4 separate regions of the Homo sapiens genome follow, and regions 2, 3 and 4 are each reported to be linked to region 1. Evidence: microRNA targets listed by miRTarBase, many of them from high-throughput screens and not tested one by one. Region 1 holds a microRNA gene; each other region holds the end of a gene's coding sequence.
The links. Region 1 holds the annotated microRNA hsa-miR-6895-3p (UGUCUCUCGCCCUUGGCCUUAG, at 3,125-3,146, opposite strand). A microRNA usually pairs through its seed, bases 2 to 8, with sites in the 3' UTR of a target mRNA and lowers its output. Matches are read on the target gene's strand: a 7mer-m8 pairs with bases 2 to 8, a 7mer-A1 pairs with bases 2 to 7 and ends in A, and an 8mer does both.

Region 2: miRTarBase lists TAL1 as a target of hsa-miR-6895-3p. Seed matches in the 3' UTR shown: 7mer-m8 at 506-512.
Region 3: the mRNA of SP9 is a reported target of hsa-miR-6895-3p. Seed matches in the 3' UTR shown: 7mer-A1 at 2,798-2,804.
Region 4: the mRNA of SLC41A2 is a reported target of hsa-miR-6895-3p. Seed matches in the 3' UTR shown: 7mer-A1 at 1,790-1,796 and 7mer-m8 at 1,744-1,750.

The regions. Positions count from the first base shown.
Region 1 is chrX:53,192,287-53,196,929 of GRCh38, forward strand. It overlaps MIR6895 (microRNA 6895), which reads right to left and starts at 3,202; the gene lies at 3,125-3,202. It overlaps KDM5C (lysine demethylase 5C), which reads right to left. Exons shown (of 26, transcript NM_004187.5): 19 at 4,400-4,643; 20 at 3,630-3,768; 21 at 2,945-3,124; 22 at 2,645-2,782; 23 at 1,853-2,452; 24 at 1,487-1,565; 25 at 1,151-1,350; 26 at 1-1,046. The coding sequence ends at 681.
Region 2 is chr1:47,216,877-47,219,876 of GRCh38, forward strand. It overlaps TAL1 (TAL bHLH transcription factor 1, erythroid differentiation factor), which reads right to left. Exons shown (of 5, transcript NM_001290403.2): 5 at 1-3,000. The coding sequence ends at 2,844. Among named protein-coding and RNA genes, the nearest start is that of TAL1, 14 kb to the right of the region's middle.
Region 3 is chr2:174,337,379-174,340,378 of GRCh38, reverse strand. It overlaps SP9 (Sp9 transcription factor), which reads right to left. Exons shown (of 2, transcript NM_001145250.2): 2 at 1,879-3,000. The coding sequence ends at 2,839. Among named protein-coding and RNA genes, the nearest start is that of SP9, 3.9 kb to the right of the region's middle. RefSeq lists an enhancer at 212-1,844.
Region 4 is chr12:104,802,592-104,805,591 of GRCh38, forward strand. It overlaps SLC41A2 (solute carrier family 41 member 2), which reads right to left. Exons shown (of 11, transcript NM_001352171.3): 11 at 1-2,746. The coding sequence ends at 2,561. Among named protein-coding and RNA genes, the nearest start is that of SLC41A2, 150 kb to the right of the region's middle.

The DNA of each region.
Region 1 (4,643 bases):
ACACCAACAATCTTCTTTTATTACAACATGAACCCAGGAGGAGGAAAGGAGACAGGGGAGGACAGGGAGGGAGGACTGAGGTGGTTGTGAGGACAAGCACCAAAAGCTTTCTTCAGATCACAGGGAGCCCTGTTCAGCTCCCCAGCCAAATTCCTTTAAAATAAAAAACTGTGAGCACGGCTATGTGAAGTTTCCTCCTCCTGGGTGGAACAGTCAGGGGAAGGGAGAGGGAGAAGGGGGTAGGAAGGAAGGAAAAGAGGGGAGGAGAGTGGGGGCAGGGGTTAGTGTAGCATGGCCTGGCCAGGACCAGAACTGGGGAGAGAAGGGAGGAGAGTCCCCCAGTTTGCATATACACTGGCCTTGTCTCTGGAATGGTGATGGCCCAGCCCCAGCCACCCCCCTGCCCACCAGCCCATCCATCTATCTGCCTCAGGTGTCTGGGAATGCTGGTTAGAGGCTACCAGGGAGGGAAGACTCCAGGGGCCGGCCCCCAGGAGCTGAGGTCTGAACAATACCTTGGAGTCAGAATACAAAAGTCAAGGGACTCAGGGGTGGGCGGGTAGCAGGGATGGCCACCCCCCTACCCGCCCACCCCCCAAGAAGCAGGCTTGATGGTCAGAAAGAGGATCCTTGAGGCCGAGGGGGGTCTCTGTCAGGGTCTGTGCTAGGCTCAGCCACTGTCACAACTGTTGCTGAGGCGGCTGCTGTGGGCAGGGCAGATGCAGCCGGGGAGTCAGAGTGGAGAAAGGGGCCGAGGGGCCTGAAGTGGTCCCTTCCGCCGGTTCCAAGCCATTCTGGTTCTCCTGGGTGCTGGGGCTGCCAGTGGTGGGGATGGGTGCAGGGGGGCCCTCACCCCCAGTCTCCTCCTCCAGCTCTTCCTCCTCCTGGACCTCCTCAGCCTCTGGCCCTGAGCTCCGTACCCTCTTTGGCTCTAGCTCCTCTCGGGCTGGGTCATCGCCCTCCCCACCCCGATCCACCTTCCGCCGCCGCCGCCTCTCCAGGGCCCGGCCCCGAGCCCGACTCCCGTGACGCTCTGCCTTCTCCAGCTGTGATTACAGACAGGCAGAAAGACAGGTTGTGGGCCAGTGGTCAGGCCTGGGCTCCCTACTCGGCCTGACCTCCTGGCCCGGCCCATGACCCCTCTCCTCACCTCCAGAAGTGTGCGGATCCTCTCCAGGTCTGGGGGCTGTCCAGCCTGCAGCAGCTGCCATATGCTGTGGTTCTCATCCAGGGTCACCTCGAGCAGGTCCCCCTCCATCATGAGCTCCTCCAAGGGGGCCCGGGTTGCCTCAGGCAGTTCCAACACAGGGCCAGTCAACTGTGGCAACAGCGAGGACAGCAGCTCCAGATCTAGGAGGTTGCAGGAACAAGCGGCATTAGAGGCTGCCCTTGGTCTTATCCCCACCACTACAACAGAGCTGAGGACTACATGGGTCACTATGGTGATGTGCAGTCAACAGCCTACCCACACCACACCTAGACCTACCTCTCTTACCTGAGCCCTCCTCCGGGGCTACCTTCTCAGGACTGGTCACACTGTCTCCATTCTCCAGTAAGCCCTGGACCTGCGGAGGAGAGCAAGAATAGGTAGGGGCAACTGAAGTGAAGAACCAGGCCCTATTCCTCCTCCGCCAACCCCAAACTTGAGACCCTCCGCCTTCTGGAGGAGGAGGGAAGACACAGGCTGCCAGCAGGGAGCAGAGTCTAGGAATCTGGACAGATGCAGAATGGAGTAGGAAGGCTGGTCCAAAGAAAACTGAAAATTGGAGAACAAGGGGCAGGGCCGAGCCTAAACTGGGGTAGGGGCTAGGAGACAAGAATCTGAGGACAAGAGCTGGGCTGAGTAGCTCACCTTAGGCATATCCTTGCCACTGCCCTCTCTGAGGGGGTCAGAAGCAGGGGCTGCAGGGTAGTTAGGAGGCTCCTCAGGTCTAGGTTCAGCCTGTAGCCGTTGGCGGAGCTCAGCCAGCCGTCCCAAAAGAGCAGTCACATCTTCAGAGGCCAGAGCCTGCCTGGCGCGGCCTTGCCAGCTGATGGCCCTCTCTGTGAGGCACTGCAGGGCCTCGCCCTCGGGCAGCCGCACAGGCAGTCTCTGCAGGGCTACCAGCAGTGCCAGGATGGTCTCCAGGCGCGGGCGCCTTGAGCGCATACACAGTGGACACAGGAATTTGGTGTCCCATTCCCACCAGGCCAGCAGTGGGGATGAGGTGGGATTGGGCCTCGGAGAGCTGAGGAGGCGAGGCACTGACACACACCGCCCATGGAACCAGTCCTGACACAGGTCACACTGCAGAGCTCCCGCCCCAGCCAGCACCTGCCCACACACACAGATAGAGGTTGTAGAGGAGGCCGTGCTCGATGATGCCAGTGGACTGGGCTTGGCCGAATTGGTGCGACGCAGCTGCAGGATACCCTCCTTCTCCTTCTGTTCCCCCTCCTTGAAGGCCACGATCTGCCATACCCAGGACAGGAGCAAAGTGGGTCAGCAGCCTACCCCTTCCCTTCTCTGGGCCCCCCCTTAACACCCCCACTCCCAAACCAGGAGAACTGAGGCTCAGGGGACAAGCGGTCTGCTCATGGCCACCCAGCTCAGACACTCTATCATCACCAAGCCCTTCTCCCCATCTGTGTCGAAGCTCCTTACCACAGAGCCTGGGTCCCTGAGGTCCTGCGCAGACAGCCCCAGCAGCTCTGTGTCAGATTTGTACAACCCCAGCTCCTTCTCCATCCACCGGCTGCGCTTGGTGCTGTCTGAGCCGGCATCTGCACATGGGCAGAGAACCTGGGGCAGGCAGACAAGAGAGGGAATGACTGGGCTTCCCTTACATCCCCCGCCTCCTTCCCTCCCTGGTGCCCCTACAAAACCCATGTTATCTCATGAGCCATCTCACAGAAGCCAGGGCAGGCGTTAAGAGACGCTGTAGGTCAAGGTCCCAGGCCTCACCTCCAGCAGCGTGTAGCAAGAATTTTTCTTGAGGAAGGTCTTGGAGGCCTTCTCCCTCCAGGAGTGCGCTGTCAGTACCTGTAGCTCTAGCTGTCTCAGCTCCTCCAGCCCCACAGGTAGGTCCCGGCCCACAGCTACTAGGCCCTCCAAGTCATCCAGGCAGGGGTAGTGGTCACCATTCTAAGGCCAAGGGCGAGAGACAGCTCAGTTCAACTTGCCAATGCTATTGATGCTTACTCTGTGCCTGGCCCTGAGCTGGAAAGATGAACTGGGCTCAGTCTTGAGGGATTAAAAAAATAGGTGTCATCCTAAGGAACAACCACTTGGCTCTCTCCCACAACACCGGCATCTACTGACTGGCTCAGCCCCAAATATCTAGTCAGCCTTCTGTTGTGGTTTGCCTCTTCTCCTCTCCTCCATGCCCCTGCCCTGCTCAGTCCCATACCACCTGCTTCCCTGGCCCACCAATCTCATCCTAACCAGTGCCCTCTCTTCCTTCAGGCCAGCCTCACACTCTTCCTCTCACCCTGCTCATCAGGCACATCTTGCCTCCTGACTACATGCCATGCCCCCTTCCTCTCTCCAGCCAACCCAACCCATCCCAGCAACCCAGCACATCCCAGTGTATATGCCATCTCTTCCCAGCTGGACTGAAGGCCTGGGGTGGGAGTGGCAGGGTCCTCACTTGGATCTCATCAACATCAGCAATCCAGGCCCGGGCCTTAGCAAGAGCCTCCTTGAGAGCCTGGATGTTGGGCAGGTGAACAGGGATGTTTTCCGCTTCACGGATTATGGCCTCAAGTGTGGCTGGTGGATGCTTCTGCCTAAAGGTAAGGAAAAAAAGAACGCTCAGTCTGATGTGGTCTGCCTGACCAGAAGCCCAGCCTGACCACCAGATATATCTGCATGGGCCCCTTGGGTGTCTGTTATTCCTGCTGTCACTTGGGCCTACTTGCTTGTATTCCACCTAAGGGTAGCTGCCAGTCCCTGCTTCCCCAAGACTGCATGCACCCAACTTCATCCCTTCTGCCACAGCTCTTGCACCTCTGTTTGTCTGCCAGTCTGCTGGCCTGCTAGCAATGCCTACATATACAACCTGTATTGTGTAATCTGTTGCTGCAGTTTGTCAACTGCCCTGTGTGGGGTCTTTCTACCAACATCTGCCCATCTGCCTGTCACTTGTGCTTCTGGGTATGCGCACATTAGCCTGTAGGGCTAGTCTTCTAGATAATCTCTATCTGTCCATTTCTGCTTCTCCATCAGCCTCTCTTTGCCTTTAAGTATACAGAGTTGTTTTTTAAAAAAACGACAAGATAGACAACAAAAGAGGGGAGAGTCAATACAGTAACACAGGAGCGTGATACCTAAGGCCACCCATGGGCATCCTCTTCTGGGTCTCCACTCAACTTTGATGTTTGGAATAGGGCAGGGAAGGGAAGCAGCAGCTGGACCTACCTGGCCTCCAGGCAGAGGTGGGCTTTCTCCTCCCAGCGTTCAGCAATGGTCAGCAGTTCCTGCAGCTCGGCCTGGGCTTTATCCACAGCAGGGCTAGGGGCTACACTGGCACCCGCGACCAACAGTCCTCGCATGACAGCCAAGGTGCCCCTTCGGGCTGAGGGGGCCAGTGTGCGTTTCACCTCATCCAGCCATCGCGCCTGTTCCACCTGCCGCTGGAGCTGCTGGGCCTCAGGCACCTCCA
Region 2 (3,000 bases), not on the chromosome of region 1:
AGGAAGGAGAGGAAGGATAAGGTCATGGGGTACAGAGGGTGAAAATAAAAATTACAGATCTTCTTTAGTTCTTACAAAGACCTAAAGACTTGCCCTTTCCTACCAGGCTTGTTTTGGGTAGTTGCATTACATTTTACACAGTCTGCCAGTGTTCCCATATCTCTTTTCCATTCTTATTACTGTCCCTGGCCTTGGAACAAGATAGAAATTAAGACAATCTGGGCTGGGTGCAATGGCTGACACCTGTGATCCCAGTGCTTCTGGAGGCAAAGGCAGGAGAATTGCCTGAAGCCAGGACTTCAAGACCAGCCTGGGCAATATAGCAAGACTCCATCTCTACCAAAAAAAAAAAAAAGTAAAAATTAGCCAGGTGTGGTGGCTCACACCTGTGGTCCTCCCTACTCGGGAGGCTGAGGTGAGAGGATTGCTTGAGCCCAGAGTTCAAGGCTGCAGACAGCAATGATGGCACCACTGTACTCCAGCCTGAGTGACAGAACAAGACACCGTCTCTCACACACACACACACACACACACAAATAGATAATCTGGAGAAATGAGGACAATCTCAATAACTCAGGCCAAAGCGGTTTACAATCTAAATTACCCAAATGCTGGGCAGTCAGGCACACCGGCCTACTGCCTAGGTCGTGGACTCAGGCTGCGAAACCCCACTGCAGGATTGAGATTGAGGGAAAAGAAAAAGTTCTTTACGTTCTCAAAACTGTCTACTTTCATGATCCCATTCAGTCCACACCATAGCCCTAGGAGATAGGCCAAGCCAGAGTCACATGGCAAGTCTGAAAGAAGAGGGAGCCAGAAGTTTGAGTTCTTAATAAAATATGTGATCCATCTCATAAAACCCATCCACCCATCCATACTGTGGCTACTTCTCATTCCTAACTCAAGCGAATCCACGGTGAAGCAAACAGCCTTAGATCCTACAGCAATGACTCTATCTTTAGACAGATGGGGCTCCTCACAGGATCTTCCAAACGTTGGAAAGGAACCAACCCTAATTTTCACCAAAACATGATCTGGGGAGCCTGAAATTGAATGGAGAGCCTGAGTGCTACAAAGGTGAACAATGTTGCCCCAAGCTCGAGAATTGGACCTTACTTAAAAGGAAGGGGAAAGGAGCAGACATATTCTCTGTCTGTACATGGCTGAATTAGGGCCCCATCATGGTGAGGACAAGCCACTAGGCTGAAGCCCAAACTATAAGGGGGGGCTTTCCAGACAGCCACAGTGATGAGTTCTTGCATGGCAGGACAGGGCCACAGGCTATCTCTCCTCTGACCTCGAAGGCAGAGCCTAGAGGGAGAGGGCTAGGGTGACTTAAGGGTACAATGACAGACATACAGGACTTCTGTGCAATTTGTCCCATGGGCTTAGATGCAGGTCACAGACAGGCCTCACCTTAAGAAAACCACATCCCACCATCTGGATTGACACAGGAAATCAATGAAGGGGCAGTGGTTCATTCTACAAAAGGATTCTTCACTTTACAAAAGGACTTGCAGTGGTTATTTCTTTAAAAGATGAAGGATAAGGATGTGATTTACAAAAATTTCATGTACAACTTTCAGAGGGGAGCACTTCTATTGCATTAAACCAACCTCCCAGACGCACCCTTGATGACCAAAAGCTGCACAACTGAGGGGTGTTTAAGGTTCTGCTAAGTGAATGTGCATATGTTTGGGTCTTAGCCAGGGCCTGGTCTCTGATTGGATTTCCCATACCCTAGAAGTGAGGCTGGATCCTGGTCCTATTGAGCGCTAAAGATTCCACCAATAACTGAAGTCAAGCAAAAATTCCAAATGCAAAGCATTCATAGGACAGGTTTTGTGCTCAATTCGGAACATAGACCAGACCATCAGCAAACAGACATCTTACAGCAAAGAAATCCCTCTAAGCATCCAGGAGAATGCACAGATGGGGCTGCGCATCTACTCAGCACCAGCGTACGCCCATCAGCACACTGGCATTCACTCGCCAGCATGAACAGTGATGTCGAGGAGTTGAAGCCCACATGCCCAAAATATCTCTTGCTCCATATCACTCTACTATCATTGTCCCTTTCTCTGCCTTCACACAAAGCCCGACAGGGCTTTCTCAGGGCTGCAGACATTGTCTCCACAGCCACAGGCTTAGGAAGGCAAGTCTCATTGGGGAGAAAGCAGAACTTTGATCCCCAGGGCAAGAAGTAAGGGCGACTGGGTTTCCTGACCCTCCGGCCCAGCTCATCTAGAGCAGACTGTCCACTGATCATCTTCTTCAACCAGGCCCTGAAGAAGGCACCTCGAGGCTTGTGACTCTGCAGCATCTGGCAAGCTGGATGGATCAACATAGGCCTGGGTGAAGATGGGGCTCACGAAATGGGCAGCTATTGGGTACCTATAAATATGGACAGAAGTGGCCACACAGGCCACCCCAGCCAGCTTGGGAGGGGCTAAAGGCAAGGCAGAGACTGCTGGATGCCTCAGATGAGAGCTGACAACCCCAGGTCTTAGGAAAGACAGGGATCCCAAACTCCAGGCCAAAAGCAGTGACAACTCCAGCCTCTTACTTGGGAAGGATTTGGGACTGAGGGAAGAGGGAAGACCGTGCCGTCTTCACAAAAAGTACCTACCACTTTGCTCCATTTTTCTGATCTCCTACTGGTACAGGAAACAGAAAAGCCAGCCCCAGGGTCAGTAAAGGCTTCCCAAAGTTCAGACATCCAGGAAAGTTCAAGTCCACCGCCTTGCTTCAGAGCCGCCCAATTCTCACCCCACCTGCCCTGAAGCCCACCATCCCAGCAGCCTAAGAACGCCCTCCTGGCTGATCCTGGTGGCCCAGACCCATCACCGAGGGCCGGCTCCATCGGCGGCAGGCAGCATGGCAGGATGGAGGCTGCGGGCCGTGTGCTTGGGCGCGGGCTCCTCCGTGTAGCTGTCCGGGCTGGCTGCCCCATCCAGGGAGCTGCCGCAGCTGGAGTTGGGGGAAAGCACGTCTTGCAGG
Region 3 (3,000 bases), not on the chromosome of region 1:
CTGGGGAGACCCACCACACCCTCTACTCCGCGCCGCCAGCCCGCGGCCCCCAAACGCGCCAGGCACCCTCTGGGCCTCCAGTGCCCCGGCCCGAAGCCCCTCCGGAAAACGCGTCCCTGCCAGCCGGCTCTCCGGAAGACCATCCCCCGACCAGAGGCGCTTAGGGAGTGGGGGGCTCCCGGTTATGAACAGCTTGATCGGGGAGAGAAAATGGCCAAAGTGAAGAAAAACTCGAGTAAGAAGAGCGGGGCAGCCTGGCCGCGGGGAGCTCAAGAAGGAGAAGGAAGAAGCCATTGAATGTCACGCTGCAAACTCCCTGCTGGGGACCTTCGTTCTGTTTTATCGCTACTTTGCGACTTGGTGTTTCAGAACAGTTTCCGAGAAAACATTTTGCTGATTGTTAATAACAAGAATTTATTTTTTCTTTCCTAAAAATCAAAATCTTCGCTCAAATTCCCAAGGCGGACAGTAATCAAAAATGGAAAAAAAAAATATGTTGGTGCTGACTTCGCTTGTATTTCCTCTTGTGTGGGAAATCTTTTAGAAATATTTTTATTCTGTAAATATGTACTTTATTTTCTAAATTAACATTTTTTTCGAATTGCGAAATTATCTCATTTACCAATTTTCTTTTTGTCTCTCCCTCTTTTCTCCCTCTTTTAAACTGGGGCTGTTAAGTTGGTGGTCAGAAGACAAAGAGAGTGAAAATAATTTTCATTTCAATAATTGCCTTCTGGTCAATTTAACTGTGCCTTATTTTGAAAGAGACTGTCTAAATGAGATTCCTGTCCCAAATGTGTTCCCAGGCCTGATCCCAGCCTTTAATTATTCCTGAGTTTTTTTCTTCAGAATAAGACGCCGCACTGAGTAATCACAAAGAAGTCAGAGAGCATCCTTGAACCTTTTCAGAAGCAGCGCCACTGATATTCAAATAACCTGCGAGGGCCATTTGACGGCGCGGGGACCTAGGCATTTCCAATTCACTATTTGCATAGATCAGCCGTCTTTGAAAAGGAAAGGAGCAGTTGTCTTCCATAACATTAAAAAGCCTAGTTATCAAATCAAGTGCTTAGTTTGGGGGCTTTTTAAAACGTTTACATTTTATCTCAGGTTGCCCTTTACCGTTTGACATGCAAATTTGGTGCAGTTAATTTAGACAATTAAAAAGATCTTCAAGGGAGCTTTGTCACAGAGAATATTTGGAGTTTTCCCCGCGGACCAGCTGAGATAAAGTTGGCCAGAACAAATGATGTCTAGGAGATTAATTAGATATTTGATAAGACATGAATCCCTAATAAGGGAATACAAGGCACAGGGGGCTGCTGTGTGCTCTAAGTCAAAATTAATAACATTTAACAAGATTTTCATTTAGGCATGAAATGTCTTTTCCGGGGTATTGACTCTAGCGATTTATTCCCTTGAGTTGCCTTCCAACATACAGGGCCTTGGGAGCTAAAAGACTTCTTTTTTTTTAAGCGTTTTCCTTTCACAGTTGTTTTTAAATCACTTTTTAAAAACAAACAAACCCACCAGAGTTTTCTCTGACCCCTCCCAGAGGTTTAGGCACCTCCCCAATTAAAGCTGCCAAGGACCTTTGCATTTTTTAGGCGCTCCAGAGTTTTAAAATGTCACCTTTTGAGAGCCTTCACATTAAGTAATACAACTACACGTCCTTACAACCCAATTTAATTTATGTTGTTGATATACAAATAAATAATTTTGACTTCTCAAAAACGTATATGTAGTATGGCTTTTATAACCCACATAAACTTTACATTACCTACAACTAACATTAAGGGAATTTTTTCCCAACCGAAAAAAAAATCGACCCACGAAAAGGTTATTGAGGGGGAAACAGGATTTTTAAAAAAGGAAATGTATTGTTCAGAGTCCTTTAATAATACCAAAATGAAAATATGATGTCAAGATTTTCTTGATACAGATAAACGCATTTAATTTCTTTAGATGACCTTAACTTACGTGTTTGTGAGTGAAATGATAACTCAACATTTTAAATATCTTTTACATATATACTGACTTTCACAAAGTGCATCAGAAAATTAAAAAAAACTCCCTGAATTTCAGGGATTCACCCAAAAAAACTCTATTCGAATGAACATTTACAAGAAAATAAAAGAGAACACAATCTTTTGAACCCTATTTATACAGATGTTATGAAATACAGAGAAACTGTCGCTAGACTTCCAGTTTAATTTCTCACCTTAAGCCTTTTGATGCTTCCTTTTTTAGGAAAAAAGTCTCATTGTAAGTAGATATCAGGCAGGACTTGGAGCATTTTATATATAATATAATCCAAACAAAGGGTGTTTTTATCGGTCCCGTTTGTTTTCAAATGTTCTGACAGTCCTTTGCTGGGTGGTGGCTTGTTTTTGAGAAAAGGAAAGAGACGGGTGTTGGAGGGAGGTGGAGAGTGGGCAAAGAGGGAGCCTTTCTATGTATTGCTCTTCGCTCGAGAAGTTTGGGCGAGTGGTATGTGTGTGCGCGCGCGAGTGTGCGTGCTTGTGGTTGTAGGTCTCCGGTGTATGTGTACGTCTGGGAGTACAGTTTTTAAAGTGTTTGTGTCGGAGGATGGTTCGCTTTTGTTTCCGGACCACGCGTTCGATTCTTATCCGGGCGCGGAAGGCAGAGGGGAGCTCCTCGCACAGCGGGCGAACCGCAGCCCGGGAGCCCTGAGCGGCTCCACCTCGCGCCCAGCCCGGGCCCTGGGGGCGTCACTGAAGCCCCTGCCCTCCCGCCTCCCGCTCGCTCGCCCTCCGAACCTCTCGTTCGTTCTCGGTGTCTCTACTCGCTTGTGTGCTCGCGCCTCTCGCCCGGCCTCTAAGAGTCGTTGGGGCCAGACGCTGCTTCCTTGCCTCCCGCGGAGGCCGCCGCCGCCGCCGCCGCCGCTGCCGCCGCCGCCGCTGCCGCCGCCCGGGCGGCACTGACGCCGGAGTCATGCAGGATGAGGTCGGGGGATTCGGAACGGGGCGTCTCCAGGTT
Region 4 (3,000 bases), not on the chromosome of region 1:
AATGGCCAGACCTGGGCAGGGTGGTAGCAATGATAGATTTTACAAATTAAGGCATTGTTCTTTATTTCAAAATTTTCATTTACCTATATTTTCCTTGGTCTTAGAAATATGAATAATTTAGAGCTGGCAATACTCACCATCAGGATATAATAAACGGAGGTTTCTTTGTCTGAAATCCATAAAATGTAGTAATACTCTATTGTACTTTTAAAAATCCTATTTTTGCAGTTGGCTTCCTCTCAGTGAATTAGTTAGGTAGTTTTGGTACATTTGGAGGGTCATAAACATGTCATAGAAAGAGTACTGGCATTATGAAAACCTGGATGTTAGGGACTTCACAATTTGGTCATTTTGCAGCTGTACAACCTTAGAAATGTAAGTTCTCTGAATTTCGGTTTCCTCTGCTGTAAAATAGAGATAGGAATATCCATCTGATATATTTCACAGGTACTACTGTGAGTATTAAATGATATTGTGTGTTTGTGCACTGGAATGTGTAATATAATAAAGTTGTTGATTAATGCTTTAAAAATGTAGCTTGCCCTGTATATTTTTTAAAAATCAAAATAGAAATCATTGGGAAATGTAAATGTTTATGAATCTTACAGCTCAAATGCAAATAATTTACAAATGCTTTATAATAAAATCAAAGATATTCATGGATTTTTTTAAGTAAAAAATCTTTGCAGCTAAATATTCATCAACTTAAACTTATTCTTTCTTTTATAAGAATGTTCACTATGTAACATTATAACTCTCCAAAGGAGAAATTCTATAATTAGTTCAGTTCTCTGCCTTAAAAGTTTTATTATAAGGCAGAAGAATGGAATAATTGAAGTTTAAAAATAAGCAAAAATATATAACTCTAAACCACAGTCCCCTCATTTAAAAGAGCTTAACAAGAATACTTTCTGCAATATATTTATAAACAACCTAATATTTATATAATAACACAAAGTTACAACTTAAATCATGATGATCAAAGTTAATGTGCATTTTGATACCCTTATCAGCTTAAATTATTAAATATCTAACGGTCTTGAGAGATTGAATTTTAAAAAATGAACCACATGTACTTTAAAAATGGTTACCTATTCAATAACTAAGGTGTTGGTCAAGTGTTTAGAATATAGGCCAGAGTTTTAGAAAAATTATTTGAGAAATATAGTATATATGATTGGGTCCCACGTAGAAATAAGCCTGTACAAATGGATATGTTTAAGCATGAACAATAATTGAGGTAACCCACCAACTTCTTTTTTAAAAGCGTAAGTCAACGGGCTTCTTTAAAAGAGCAAATGAATCACTTGCTCATTTTAAATCTCCTATCTTGATTATATTAAATAGTACTACTTTTTAAAATAAGAAATTATTAATTATTAATTAGAGTGTAGGTAACAAATTAGCTGGGCGTTGTGGCGCATTCCTGTAATCCCAGCTACTCGGGAGGCTGAGGCAGGAGAATCACTTGAATCCAGGAGGTGGAGGTAGCAGTGAGCCGAGATCACACCACTGCATTCCAGCCTGGGCGACAGAGCAAGACTCTGTCTCAAAAAAAAAAAAAAAAAAAAAAAAAAAGAATATAGGTAACAAATAGTAAATTCTGGTCAGCAGCAAAATTTTTGGACCCAATGACAAAAACATGTTAATAGAATGTGTTTAAGAATAACTCTATATTGCTGATATTCCAACAGCACTATGATCTTTGCTATCAGCAATCCAAGATTTAGTTCTTCATCAAAAGTCTCTCTCTCTCACACACACACACACACACATTCTCGTACCGTCTTGTCTCTACAAATGCATCTCAGGTTATATTCTGTTTTTGAAGATTACATTTTTTAAAACACATCAACATTTTTCCAACAAATCAATCATCAAAAAATGACTCACTGCTTTCATTAACAATCTCTCAAGATCACTCAATGTTTAAAGATTAGCCTGACAAGAACTTGCAGAGCTGAAATTGAATTGGCATCAGAACAGGATAATTTTAGATGGAGGTAAAAGTGAGTTTATCTTATGCTCAGCAAAACATATTTAGGTCAGTTTAAATATGAGCAACTGGTAAATTTATCCTCAGCTAGCATAGAGGTGGGCATTGTTAATACGATTCAAAGCTTGGTTGGGCACTCTTCGTTTTATAGTATGCCTGGGATACAGCACATCTGTGAGACAAGAAAGGCTAAACTAGAGCTCTGCTTCTTCTAATCCTGCATTACAAATTTAATAATAAAGTACATTTCTGCTATGTTTGTGGTTTTAAAATTATTCACTGTAAACATCCTATATTCTTTCCTAATTAATTTCAGAGCTGGAACTTATATCTATGTCTATGTCAAATTATCATTTATTCTATGAAAAGCAGCACGAATACTCTTCATTCTGGTTTTGACACAAATTCCTTAAAAAAAAATTAAGGCCATTTAATTGAATCAGGGCCAACTGAAGATTACCCTGGCAAAAGTCAAACTACTGATTTAAGAGTTTTGAAAAAGAGCCATAAGTGGTTGTCGTGTATTTTCTTCCTTGGTAACTTGAGAGCAGTTTGTAGAATTTATTAGTCTCCAACATCTCCATCTCGATCTCCAATAAGCCAAAGAAAATGAAAACTTAAGGCTAACAGAGCTGTCCCGAGCAGATCACCCAATGCTGTTAGGTAGGGGATGGAGAAACTATCCGGGTCCTTTCCTTTCCTCCAGAAGTGATGGACCATCCAGTCAGCAATCCACAGCAAGGTAAATACCTAGAAGAGAACAACAGAGATTACTCCGGCTGCCTGGACATTCCTAGCCCATGAAACATGGCCACAAGCCTAAACCACTGGCTTCTGGAAGGGACCGTATGTGTCTAAGTCAAGAACCATGCTTGAAAATAAGAAATACTTAGATGACAAGAATACTTTCATTTCACAAGAAAAAAAACAGCATGTATGTTTACAGGTACTAAAATTTTTCTTCAACTTTTCATATAGATCTCATTCTAGCCTCCCAATAGCCA